4 linked regions of the Homo sapiens genome follow. The protein of the gene in region 3 purifies or fractionates together with the protein of the main gene of each other region. This does not show direct contact. Each region holds a gene or a part of one and is shown on either strand. Other genes may lie near its edges.

Region 1 (4,241 bases), on a different chromosome or scaffold from region 3:
GGTGGCACGCGCCTGTAGTTCCCAGCTACTTGGGAGGCTGAGGCAGGAGAATCACTTGAACCCGGGAGATTACAGGCGTTGAGCCACCACGCGCGGCCAAAAAAAAATTCTTTAAAAAAAAAAAGAAAAACTGGTCGGGCGGGGTGGCTCATGCCGGTAATCCCAGCACTTTGGGAGGCTGAGGCGGGCGGATCACCTGAGGTCAGGAGTTCAAGACCAGCCTGGCCAATATGGTGAAACCCCGTCTCTTTTTTTTGAGACTGTCTCAAAAAAAAAAAACAAAAGAAAAGAAAAAGAAAAAAAAACTATGCCTTTTAAAAGACAACACAAAGACACCAGATTAAATGCACTTAACAAAGATACTCTTCTTAAAAGCTGGCTGCATCTCACTCCCTTCAAATGTCCCATAGGACTGGAGCCGTGTGCACTTCCTTGGCGCTCCACAAACGCTTACTAAACGAAGCGTATCCACTTTTTTATCCACTGATTCTCTTTTTTTTTTTTTTAGACGAGTCTTACTCTGTCACCCAGGCTGGAGTGCAGTGGCACGATCTCCGCTCACTGCAACCTCCACCTCCTGGGTTCAATCGATTCTCCTGCCTCAGCCTCCCAAGTAGCTGGGACTACAGGAGCACACCACCATGCCCGGTTAATTTTTTTATTTTTAGTAGAGACGGGGTTTTGGCACGTTGGTTAGGCTGGTCTCAAACTCCTGACCTCAAGTGATCCACTGGCCTCGGCCTCCCAATGTGTTAGAATTACAGGCGTAAGCCACCGAGCCCAGCCTTTCTGTTCTATTTAAAAAAAGACAAATGAGGCTGGGCACAATGGCTCACACCTGTAATCCCAGCACTTTTGGAGGCCAAGGCGGGCAGATCACCTGAGGTCAGAAGTTCGAGACCAGCTTGACCAACATGGAGAAACCTCCATCTCTACTAAAAATACAAAATTAGCCGGGCATGGTGGCGCACGCCTGTAATGCCAGCTACACGGGAGGCTGAGGCAGGAGAATCGCTTGAACCCAGAAGGCAGAGGTTGCGGGAAGCCATGATCGCGCCATTGTACTGCAGCGTGGGCAACAAGAGCGAAAATCCGTCTCAAAAAAAAAAAAAAAAGTAGAAAGACCAATTAACCTGGCATGGTGCGCCTGTAGTCTTATAGTCCCAGCTACCTGGGAGGCTGACGCAGGAAGATCGCTTGAGCCCAGGAGTTGAAGATTGCAGTAAGCTATGATTGCACCACTGCACTCCAGCCTGGGAGACAGAGGGAGACGCTGTCCCCAAAAAAAAAATTAAAAAAAAAAAAAAAAAAGGCCAGGCGCGGTGGCTCACGCCTGTAATCCCAGCACTTTGGGAGGCCGAGGTAAGCAGATCACGAGGTCAGGGTATCAAGACCGTCATGGCTAACAGTGAAACCCCGTCTCTACTAAAGATACAAAAAATTAGCCGGGCATGATGGCGGGCGCCTGTAGTCCCAGCTAGTTGGGAGGCTGAAGCAGGAGAATGGCAGTGAACCCGGGAGGCGGAGCTTGCAGTGAGCCGAGATCTAGCCACTGCGCTCCAGCCTGGGCGACAGAGTGAGACTCCATCTCAAAAAAACAAAAACAAACAAACAAAAAACACCCTCCAGAATAATGCAGCACCTAGGAATTATAAAGCTTAATATGTAGCCGGGCACAGTGGCTCACGCCTGTAATCCCAGCACTTTGGGAGGCTGAGGCGGGCGGATCACAAGGTCAAGAGATCGAGACCATCCTGGGCAACATGGTGAAACCCTGCCTCTACTAAAAATACAAAAATTAGCTGGGCCTGGTGGCGCGTGCCTGTAGTCCCAGCTACTCAGGAGGCTGAGGCAGCAGAATCGCTTGAACCCGGGAGGTCGAGGTTGCAATGAGCTGAGATCGCGCCACTGCACTCCAGCCTGGCGTCAGAGCAAGACTCCGTCTCAAAAAAATAAAGAAAGAAAGAAAGAAAGAAAGAAATTTAGCATCCCTCTCTAGAGCCCCAAAATGCAAGGCAGACTTTTATCATCTTCTCAAGATTTTAATCTCCTGGGCTCGCTCCACGCCCCTCAGTGGCCATCTCATACTGCTCTGGGGAGACTGTTCTGGAAACAGGCCTGGTATGCTGGGTGTGCCCCTGACTCACTCCACCCCCTCTCCATGAGGCAACCCCTAAGCAGGCTGAGCTCCGAGCAGAGTTGCTGCCCAAGGGGAGCTCTGCTGAACGCGAAGACCCCTTCTCTGCTCGGGAGCCGCCCTCAACACCTCGGACTGGGTCCAGGGCCAGACAGCGTGAACCCGAGGGCCCCGCGCAGGGACCGGGGGGTGGCAGAGCAAGCAAGAGCAGGGCACGGGGTGGGCGGCATAAGCGAGACCTGCTGGGAGCGACAGAACCCAAACTACGGGAGCAACGGCGGGCGCCAGGGAACCACACCTCGGAACGGTCCCAGGGGAGACCAGGAGGGCGGCTGGAGAGAGCCCAGGAAGCGGTCTGGGCCGCGGGCAAAAAACACACCACGACCATCATAAGCTTCGAGGTCAGTGGCCCCGGGAGCTGAAGAGGGGCCGCGGGGTGGGTGAACCGAGACCGAGAGGACAGAGAGTCGCAGACGCGACCCCGGGAGACGGAGAACAACGGGCAGCCTGGGCCCATCTGCGGCGAAGGGGCCGGGCCCGGCAGGTACCTTGGCCGGCGGAGTCCATGTTCGGGCGGCGTCCGGACCGCTGTCGCGGGCGCTATGGGAGCCGAGCGGGCGGCGCCGGGAGAAGCTCGCCGCGTACACACTAGCCAGCGGAACTGCCTCAGCTCCGCGGCGTTTCGTAATCCGCGATGCGACGGCTACTTCCGCCCGGGCACGTGCTCCGCCTTCTTCCCGCCCCCACCAGTGATATCCAATGAGAGTGCCGCTTGGCCCGTCCTGGTTTACCCGACTCAACCTGATAGGCCGAAACTGCGGGCGAACCAGGAAAGGGAGGCGTGGTTCGGCGGGAATCCATTCCAGGTTGACTCCACCAGCGAGAATCACAGGTAGAACGGTCAGAGTAGCGGGAGGACTGGGAAGGTGGGAAGTGGGAGGACCGTCCAACATGGCGCTGTGGAAAGCCAGCGCAGGGCCCCAGGGGATCTTCCGGGGCGGATGCAGCTGCCTAGGAGTGCTGGGGCTCGCGCGCCTCGGCGGCTCAAACTCTGACCCCTTGAGATCCTTTCCAGCCCGACCCCTTACTTTAGGGGTCAGCCTGCCCCCGTAAGTCCTGTTATTTATTGTATTTATATTCTTTTTTTAGTTGGTCCTTTTTTGTTTGTTTTTGAGACGGAGTTTCACTCTTGTTGCCCAGGCTGGAGTGCCATGGCGCGATCTCAGCTCACTCCAATCTCTGCCCTCCGGGTTCAAGCGATTCTCCAGCCTCAGCCTCCCGAGTAGCTGGAATTACAGGCGCGCGCCAACACGTCCGGCTAATTTTCGTATTTGTAGTAGAGACGGGGGTTTCGCCACCTTGGCCAGGCTGGTCTAGAACTCCTGACCTTAGGTGATCCACCCGCCTCGGCCTCCTAAAGTGCTGGGATTACAGGCGTGAGCCACCGCCCCTCACGCCTGGCTAGTTTGTCCTTTTCATGGGGACTTTTTATTGTACGCGGGTTACTCTGAAAAAGATCGCGATTCGTCCCCTCGCCCTGCAGGCGCCGCTGCCGCCTCGCCTCGGGCGTGGACCCTGCGGCTCGGGCCTGCGCGTGTGCACCCCGAGGTTGTCTCACTTCCTGTTCAGGGCGACCAGCGCTGCGCCCTCCCCACTCCACAGATGAGGAAGCTGAGGTTAAAGTCACTTGCCCCAGGTCACTCCGCAAGTTGAAGCGCAACCAGGATACTCTGGAACAGGATGCCTGACTTCAGAGGAGAGGCGCGTAACCACCAGGCAACTGGCCCCACGAAAACAAGTCCCGCAACTTCCCTTCTTTGGCTCCTACTTGCTCCCGGAAGAAAAGCCTTAAACGGTATTCAAGCCCTTTAGGATCTGATGTCCTAGGACTCCACTCTGGGCTTCCAGCCTGGGGTGGTACTGGTCCCTAGGCATGGAAGCTCCTCCCACTGCCCCTTCCTTCACCCGGCCACCTCCTCCCACAGGTGTCTTCCTGGTACTCTTGCACAGGCCCGAGTCCCTTACCACCACGGCCTTAGCCTGCTCTCGTGCTCTCAGTAATGTTTTCTCCATTTGCTGCCTTTCATTCTTTCCAGAGATTCTT
Region 2 (2,204 bases), about 130 Mb from region 3:
TTTTTAAGAAAGCCTTTCCCTGGCTGCTTATCGCCCCAAGGTCAGCTGTGCTGGCTGCTGCAGGTTCAGTTCTGGGATACCCAGGGCAGTCTTCACCAGGCAGGAGGAGCCATCGGAGTGGGGCAGGGAGAGATGGCAAAGAGATCAGCAAAGCTCATGAGGGTGTTTGGAAATGCATTTGGCAAAGAAGTGATGGTGGAGTGAGATGAGATGGTCTGTGCTGGGCTTCCTTGGGTGGGGTGGGTGGGAGAGGGGAATGAGGGTGCCTGGCCTCAGAGGCCAGGTGGACAATGAGTCGAGTGGGGTTGGGGGGCACCAAGTAGAATTCTGGAGCAGGGAGGAGGAAGGCCGCGGAGAGGCTGTCCAGTGAGGCAGGACCAGGATGGGGGCACACAGGGGACGGGAGAATGGAGGGAGACTAAGTCTGATTCAGGAAAACAAAAACAGAATCTGGGACGAAGCAGTGGAGGAACTGAGACGGGGTGCAGGCCTTCCACAACCTTTCCTTCCCCATCCCACCACATCCTCTGTTTTCCCAGCTCCACATCTTCATACTCTATATCCACCCAGCACTAGATTTTCTTTTTGATGTCTTCTTTTTCTTCTCCTCTCCAACAGCTGTTCCAGTTCCTGCAGGCCACCGCCCAGGAAGAAGGGATCTTTGGTGAGTCCCAACCAGTCAGCCCAGGCTCCTGCAGGCAGTGGTGTTTGCTGGTGGCTGCTGCCCCCTGCCGGACAGTGACAACCCAACTCTAGGAAGGCGGGCTGCAGAGTAGTCTTCTGTCCAGTCGGAGATCTATCCCTCCCTGGGCTTCTTTAAACAAGAGGAGAGAAGCCTGTGCCCAGTGTCTCCCTGTCCTCCCTACCTAGAGCCTTCACTTCTCTCTTCTTTCCAGAGTGTGCAGACCCAAAGCTTGCCATCAGTGCTATCTGGACCTTCAGAGACCTAGGGGTGAGAGGAGCCAGTGTCACCATCTTCTGTCCCCCTGCTCCCACCCCAATAGAGTGGCTCAGGGAAACCCAGCTATGTTCCCATCACCCCACAGGGCTGGCCTGATGGTGCCTCATTAAGACCCTGGGATTTACTTGGTGTCTTCCAGCAATAGACGTGGTGATGGGTTGGAGAAGGTGGGATGGTTTCCTGCCTCTTGGTCTCCCAAATCACTGGCTCATCCTTCTAGGTGGGGTATTGGGGCTGCTTTGAGGCAGCATTTGCACTCAAACACTGAGGCCTAAGGGGTCAGAGGTCTCAAGGCAGGTTTCTGGGGGACAGGCCTGGCCCCTGGGCCATGTGGACACAGTCCCTGTGGTGAGTGCACTCACGGCCCATCTTCCATGGCCCAGGTTCTGCAGCAGACGCCGAGCCCTGCAGGCCCCAGGCTCCACCTGTCCCCTACTTTTGCCAGCCTGGACAATCAGGAAAAACTAGAACAGTTCATCCGGCAGTTCACTTGTAGCTAGAACTGTGAGAAGGAGCCTGTGCTGAGACTTCTGAGCCCCAGAACACAGCTGTGTCCTAGAGCCAGAAGATGGAGAGGAGGCTGCAAACCCTTAGCTATAAATATAATCATTGAGGCTTGATTGTCCCTTGCCATCTCTTGCTTTTTCCCTTCTTTGATGTGATAAACAAGGGGACGACACGAATTGTCTTTTCCCCAGCCCAGCAGCATCTTTTTGGCATATGTGTGTGTATTTGCTCTCTTCTTCCCCAGTCCCACAAAATGCCCCAACTTGTCCCATGAAACAAAGCCCAAAAGAAGACAAACAGCAGAAGCAAAGCTGCTGCTTTGACCTGACGAATTTATTGAAGAGAGCTCTGTCCTTCTCCCTTCTACCGAGAAGAGGCGGCTTGCAGGGCTGGCACCTGTCCACACCTGTCACTGGGCCTTTCCCTGGGCTAGGCTGAGTGGGAGCAGATGCCCTCATCCTATGTGCAGGGCCTGTGCAGGAGCCATCACACCACCTTGTTGATGATGACACCTAGTTCTTCAATCTCACACTGGACTTCATCCCCCTTCTGCAACAGAGCAGGCCATGACAGTGTCAGCCCTTCCGTCAGACACACATACACAAGCCTGTACTTCTCAAGTCTGAGGCAAGCCTGCCAGGCCTTTGGGGCCCTTGCTCTTTGCTTTTCGCTAACCTACCTTGAGAAAGACAGGAGGTTTCCTGAATACACCGACACCTGGGGGGGTCCCAGTTAG
Region 3 (2,244 bases):
CTATTCACTGCCTTTCTGGTTTCTAAATCAATCTCTGGTTTAGTTGAGGTATCAGTTCTTCTGGGTCTGAACCACACGTGTTCACTCACAAAACTGAGCTGCTGAGGAGAAGTAGAGCTTGATCTTGTTATCACTAGATAGCTCTGTGTAGTCAGAGCGCCTAAATATCCTGCACTATGCTGACTGCTACCTCAAGCGGCAGAGACAGTAATACCCACCACCCTTACAGACAGCACAAATGACATGCTAGCACATTCAGGCCAGAGGCAGGAAGAAGGCATGTGTTTTCAAGACAGAAAGGCAGACTTAATAACACACATTCTCTTGGTTTTCTCATCTGTAAAATGGGAGGAATGATGCCTTGCCCAAGTGTTGCCAGGATTGAGTAAGATAATGTAGTGAAAGCACCCAGCACACAGAGGGTGCTGAATAAATGGTTGCTACTGTTATTGCCCTACGTCCAGGCTGACTACAACAAAAGTGATATTAGGCAAACACAGTAACAAGCAAGGAATGTTTTATTGTGTACATTTTCTCAAAAAAAAAAACCCACAAAAACAGAACCCACAAATAGGAGCAAAGAACAGTTTTCTAGCATCTCTGGGATACACAGGGCACCATATCTTATAGAAACATAGCTAGTACAAGAACAAAGTGTACTAATTAACATTACCCCTTGCTTCCCCAGTCAAAAAAGGCTATAGAGAAAAACACTTTAAATTGTACTCTAATACAAATTTGTTGCACAATTAAACTTCAACTTACTCAAAGAGTTATTGTATTGTAAACTGCAGAAAATAGAATAGGCATTCAATAAATCTGCTCACAATTAACAATTAAGCAATAGACACTTGAATAAATATAGCATGTATTACTTATTTGTTAAGCCTTACACTTACGATGAGCAGATGGTTTATCACTATATAGTAACAGATTTTTTTTACACTTTAGGAGATACCATATCCAATAACGGAAGTAGAAGTACTTTAACGAAAACTGATTTTAGAAAAATATCTCCTTGGGTCTGAGCTACTATGGTATTTATTACATATTTGGGTCAGTTTCACCAGTTTAAAAATATAGGTACTAACAAACTGAATTCTTTCATGGGAGAACAAAGTAATACATTCTAGAGCAATAGTATTTCTTTATATCCTTTAGGTAGCAGGACAGAGCTAGGACATAGTAAAGAGATTTACGATGTAATGAATAATTTGTTTCTACCTAATGCTATAGGGGTATTGCTATCATTTGAACTAAGAAAGAACAATTTTAAAACTTGTTTATAATGAAGAATCGGCATTTCCTTACCACATATATACTAGATGTAAATATAAGGATCTTCTCTAATAGTCTGTATTCCTTAATCCCTATCTGTACAAATTAGCCTGCATATTCAGGAATGGAACAACCAGTAAACTGTTACTTGAAGAACTAATTTAAATGATCCATTTAAGAGAAATGCAGTCAAAATAAGGCAATAACCATCAGCCTATCTGTACTTTTCTTCTGTGCCTACTCAGTAAAATTGAGAAAATAATTTTTGCCCACTTCTATAAAAATATCACCCCATTTGCTACCTAGCATATGAGAGAGACAAGACTAGCCTGTCACGTTTGTCTCTAAAAAGAAAAATGATAGGCCTGGTGGAGAGCAAGCTATATGGAAACATCAGCCTTTCCTTTTCTAAGATACGTCACTCCAATTCTTCCTTAAATATAAACTTCCTCCTTGATTTATATTAACCCCTTAGGAGGCACTATAATAACTTTATGTTCCCATGGAACATAGGGTTTTTCAAGAATTTCTTAAAATAAAAAAGGTTTGAAAGCTATGGAGTAAACTCAGCAGCTGTGATATTCCGTTCAATCTACCACAGATGTCAAACGGTCACATTTTACAGAAGTCAAAGGAAAACAAAACCACAGTTCTGCACTCTTCCACAGGGCAAGGAATTGATCATATTCTATTTTCCTTTCAGGAATTCATAAAATCCCTAGGATAGCACCTTTGTATGGGCTGAACCATTAACTGAACTAAAATTAATACAGGAAGCTTAACATTCAACATTGTGCTTGAACAAAACTTACCACTACTCAATTTTTCTTCCAAACTATGTTAGTAATATACATTTTGCAAAGAGTCTAGAAAGTTTTTAAAAGAAATCTCTTTAGGTGATGTAACACGAAAACTCTAAGGAACAACAAAACCCTTCAGTCTTATTTCTGAAGACAAGTCTATGTT
Region 4 (3,500 bases), on a different chromosome or scaffold from region 3:
TCCTCGGCCTCCCAAAGTGCTGGGATTACAGGCATGAGCCACCGCGCCCTGCAGAACTGTCCTTATTTTTTATCTTGTCTGTATGTACTTGATGTGCTGACACATTGTTTCAGCTAAGCTTTCCCAGTTCATTCATTATGCTCACATTTGTGCTCACAGCCACCCAGACCTGGGAGACATACTGGACTCAGATTTGCCTCCCACCCCAAGCATCCCCTAATTTCATCAATGACCTCCTTTCATGTTCTCTCAGGTTCATGTCTCTCTGGCCCAGTATGTAGCCAGCTTTCCTGTGTCCATTACTAAAAATCTCTCTTCTTTCACTCCCTCCTACCTCAGGGTTACCTTCTATACACCTCCTAAAACCATCCCCCAAACACCATTTTCATCATAGTAATCTCCTGCATCACAGGAATCCTCCAGGTCTACCTATTCCTTCAGAAGAAAACTTTTAATATTTAGCAATTAAAACCCTCATGAGGAAAATTTAAAAGGTTCTGTGGTTAAATAAGCCAGTAAAGCATTAACATACGTATTACAACCACTTTTTAGAAGGCAGCAATGTGGATTAAATGCTCTAAAAAGTCCTGCAGTAAAGCAAACATATTTTAACTTTGTTTAGTCTAACATTTCCATATTTATTTGAGTGCCTAACATGTTTTTTTCAAGTAATGTCTCAACGTAACATTAAATTAATGTTCTATGAAACACTTTTAGAAGTGCTGTTTTATTTTACCTTAAAAACACTCTAATCCAGCCGGGTGCAGTGGTTCACGCCTGTAATCCCAGCATGTTGGGAGGCTGAGGCGGGTGGATCATCTGAGGTCAAGAGCTCGAGACCAGCCTGGCCAACATGGCGAAACCTCATCCCTGCTAAAAACACAAAAAATAGCCAGGCGTGGTGGCGGGCGCCTATAATCCCAGCTACTCGGGAGGCTGAGGCAGAAGAATCACTTCAACCCAGGAGGTGGAGGTTGCAGTGAGCCAAGATCGTACCATTGCACTCCAGCCTGGGTGACAGAGTGAGATTCCATCTCAAAAAAAAATAAAATAAAATAAACACAACAAAAAAACTTCTAATCCAATTACAGGTTATAGAAGTGCTGTTTTAATGCCTGGTTTTGAAAAATTGGCATAAAAATCTTCCTTTTTTTTTTTTTTTTTTTTAATCTATGAACATTCTGTTTGGTCCTGTAACCTCTCCTATTCAGGTCCTTTCATTGCCTCCCTAACCCTGGATTAATAATGCCAGTGATGTTATTTGACCAGTTACAGGTCAGCCCCTATGCTTTCTGTACACTGGGTAACCACCTGTCGCACGACAGCTTCAGAAACTTTCCCGACCTCAAATGATCCTACCACAACACAAAGCAAAAAGAGGTTGGAAAAAAATCATTCTTTTCATCCTAATTTGGTTCATCCTTTGTCCTTTCACTTTTGGTCTCAGAGATCAAGCCTGGTTTTTACATTTGTGCATTTGATTTAAGAGGCGTCTTGCCAAATACATGTTTAGGTTTTGATGTCTGTTTTTTTTTTTGTTTTGGTAACCTGGAACACCAGTACAAATCAGAGTTTTCTACCTACCGGGGAAGTTTCTCAACTGGGATGCTGGCATCTTGAGTTCCAGGTTCTGGAGCACTGAAGTAAATAATATTAGAAAAGAAAGATTGTTATTGGCATAATAAAAAATAAAGAAACAACATAACTCAGTTTGTATATTTGCCTGGCAGTATGTGGTATAAAACTCCTAATTAATACATGCTCACTTGGAAGGGCATTAGAAGGAAGGACCCCAAGCCATTAATTACCAGTGGTGCTGGGCACAGTGGCTCATGCCTGTAATCCCAGCATTTGGTGAGGCCAAAGTGGGAGGACTGCTTGAGGCCAGAAGTTCAAGACAACCCTCGGCAATACAGTAAGACTGCATTTCTACCAGAAATACAAAAATTAGCTGAGTGTGGTGATGTGTGCCTATAGTCCTAGCTACTTGGGAGGCTGAGGCAGGAGGATTGCTCGAGCCCAGGAGTTGGAGGCTGCAGTAAGGTGTGATTGTGCCACTGTACTCCAGCCTGGGAAACAGAGCAAGAACCTGTCTCAGAAAAAAAAAAATCACCAGTGGTTGTACTGCCAGTGAGGGAATGCATGTGTGGGGAGGGCTGGAGTGGCTGGGTGTGCCAAGGGGGAACTTCATGTTTACCTTTATACATCATCATCATCATCATTTGTATCCTCTGCAATGACATTATATAGTCCTTATACAATTTATACTGTTTTTAAAAGGCTGAGTGGAATTTTTCTCAATATTGTGTCTACCCTCAAATTTTTTCCTCATTGTAATAATAGTACATGTTCATAATAGAAATATAGGAAAATTCAGAAAGATATAAAGAAGAAATTAAAAATTACCCATAATCCCTCCACTCCTGATATTCCTTATTAACATTTTGTTGTATTTTCTTCTGGTCTTTTAACTATATACAGATACACGAACTCATTGTGTGTACAAATTTAGGACCCTGTGGTTTTCACTTAACACTGTAAGTTGTGAGCAAAATATTTCTTTTATCACATGGCTATATTTAGTTTTTTTGTTTGTTTGTTTGTTTTTTGAGACAGGGTCTCCCTCTGTCACCCAGGCTGTAGTGCAGTGGCATGATCTCAGCTCACTGCAGCCTTGACTTCCCAGGCTCAAATAACCCTCCCACCTCAGCCTCCCTAGTAGCTGGGACTACAGGCATGTGCCACCACACCCAGCTAATTTTTGTGGTTTTTTGTTTTGTTTTGTTTTTTTGTAGGACAGGTTTCTCACTGTGTTGCCCAGGCTGGTCTTGAACTCCTGAACTCAAGCAGTCTCCCCACCTTGTAACCCCAAAGTGCTGGGATTACAGGCATGAGCCACTGCACCCAGCCTTGTATTTAGTCTTATTTCTCATAAATATCCATGGGAATCTTTGATGAATGTTCAATTTCCTCACATTTATGTTCAACCTAAAGGAGAAAACAACCTATACTTATTCTGTAGTGTGGTATAATTACCCTTTTCCTGATAAAGCTGGACAAATTGGACTCTTGTAATTCTCAGCCACAACTCCACAAGAGGTACATCGAGTTTTAAATAAGCTACCTGAAAAATACATATGAAGCAAATCCAGAATTTAGTATAATCAAGAGCAACCTTCTCCATGTCTAAAAGGGTATAAGATACTTTATTTTTCACACTTCATTTCATGTTTTGGTCTCACCCAGTTACCCAGGCTGGAGTGTAGCAGTACGATCATAGCTCACTGCAGCTTCCAACTCATGGGCTCAAGCGATCCTCCCACCTTTGCCTCCTGAGCAGCTGGGACTATAGGTGTGCACCGCCACACTGAGCCATACTTCATTTTAGCAAATGGGCCTACCCTAGCTTTAGCTTTCATGGGAAACAGAGGCATGCAGTACTCTTAAGCCAGTCAAGAGCATATGCCCTCAAGGACTTTATAATCTGGAGGAAAAATAAA

The links.
Region 1: the proteins of WDFY1 (region 3) and TPD52L2 fractionate together in Homo sapiens (co-fractionation; one large-scale study listed by BioGRID). This does not show direct contact.
Region 2: the proteins of WDFY1 (region 3) and FAHD2A fractionate together in Homo sapiens (co-fractionation; one large-scale study listed by BioGRID). This does not show direct contact.
Region 4: the proteins of WDFY1 (region 3) and SIRT5 purify together in Homo sapiens (affinity purification with mass spectrometry; 2 studies listed by BioGRID and IntAct, with this or other methods). This does not show direct contact.

The regions. Positions count from the first base shown.
Region 1 is NC_000020.11:63,863,829-63,868,069, reverse strand, and holds the start of TPD52L2 (tumor protein D54), read right to left. Parts: upstream 2,801-4,241; 5' UTR 2,705-2,800; coding exon 2,686-2,704; intron 1-2,685.
Region 2 is NC_000002.12:95,412,708-95,414,911, reverse strand, and holds part of FAHD2A (oxaloacetate tautomerase FAHD2A, mitochondrial), read right to left. Parts: coding exon 2,148-2,204; intron 2,018-2,147; coding exon 1,955-2,017; 3' UTR 947-1,954; coding exon of another isoform or gene 867-946; 3' UTR 729-866; coding exon of another isoform or gene 680-728; 3' UTR 631-679; coding exon of another isoform or gene 573-630; 3' UTR 1-572. UniProt on the Homo sapiens protein: Tautomerase that converts enol-oxaloacetate, a strong inhibitor of succinate dehydrogenase, to the physiological keto form of oxaloacetate. It is thereby required to maximize aerobic respiration efficiency by preventing succinate dehydrogenase inhibition.
Region 3 is NC_000002.12:223,874,848-223,877,091, forward strand, and holds the end of WDFY1 (WD repeat and FYVE domain-containing protein 1), read right to left. Parts: 3' UTR 501-2,244; downstream 1-500. UniProt on the Homo sapiens protein: Positively regulates TLR3- and TLR4-mediated signaling pathways by bridging the interaction between TLR3 or TLR4 and TICAM1.
Region 4 is NC_000006.12:13,595,101-13,598,600, reverse strand, and holds part of SIRT5 (NAD-dependent protein deacylase sirtuin-5, mitochondrial), read right to left. Parts: intron 3,125-3,500; coding exon 3,037-3,124; intron 1,639-3,036; coding exon 1,585-1,638; intron 874-1,584; exon of another isoform or gene 737-873; intron 1-736. UniProt on the Homo sapiens protein: NAD-dependent lysine demalonylase, desuccinylase and deglutarylase that specifically removes malonyl, succinyl and glutaryl groups on target proteins.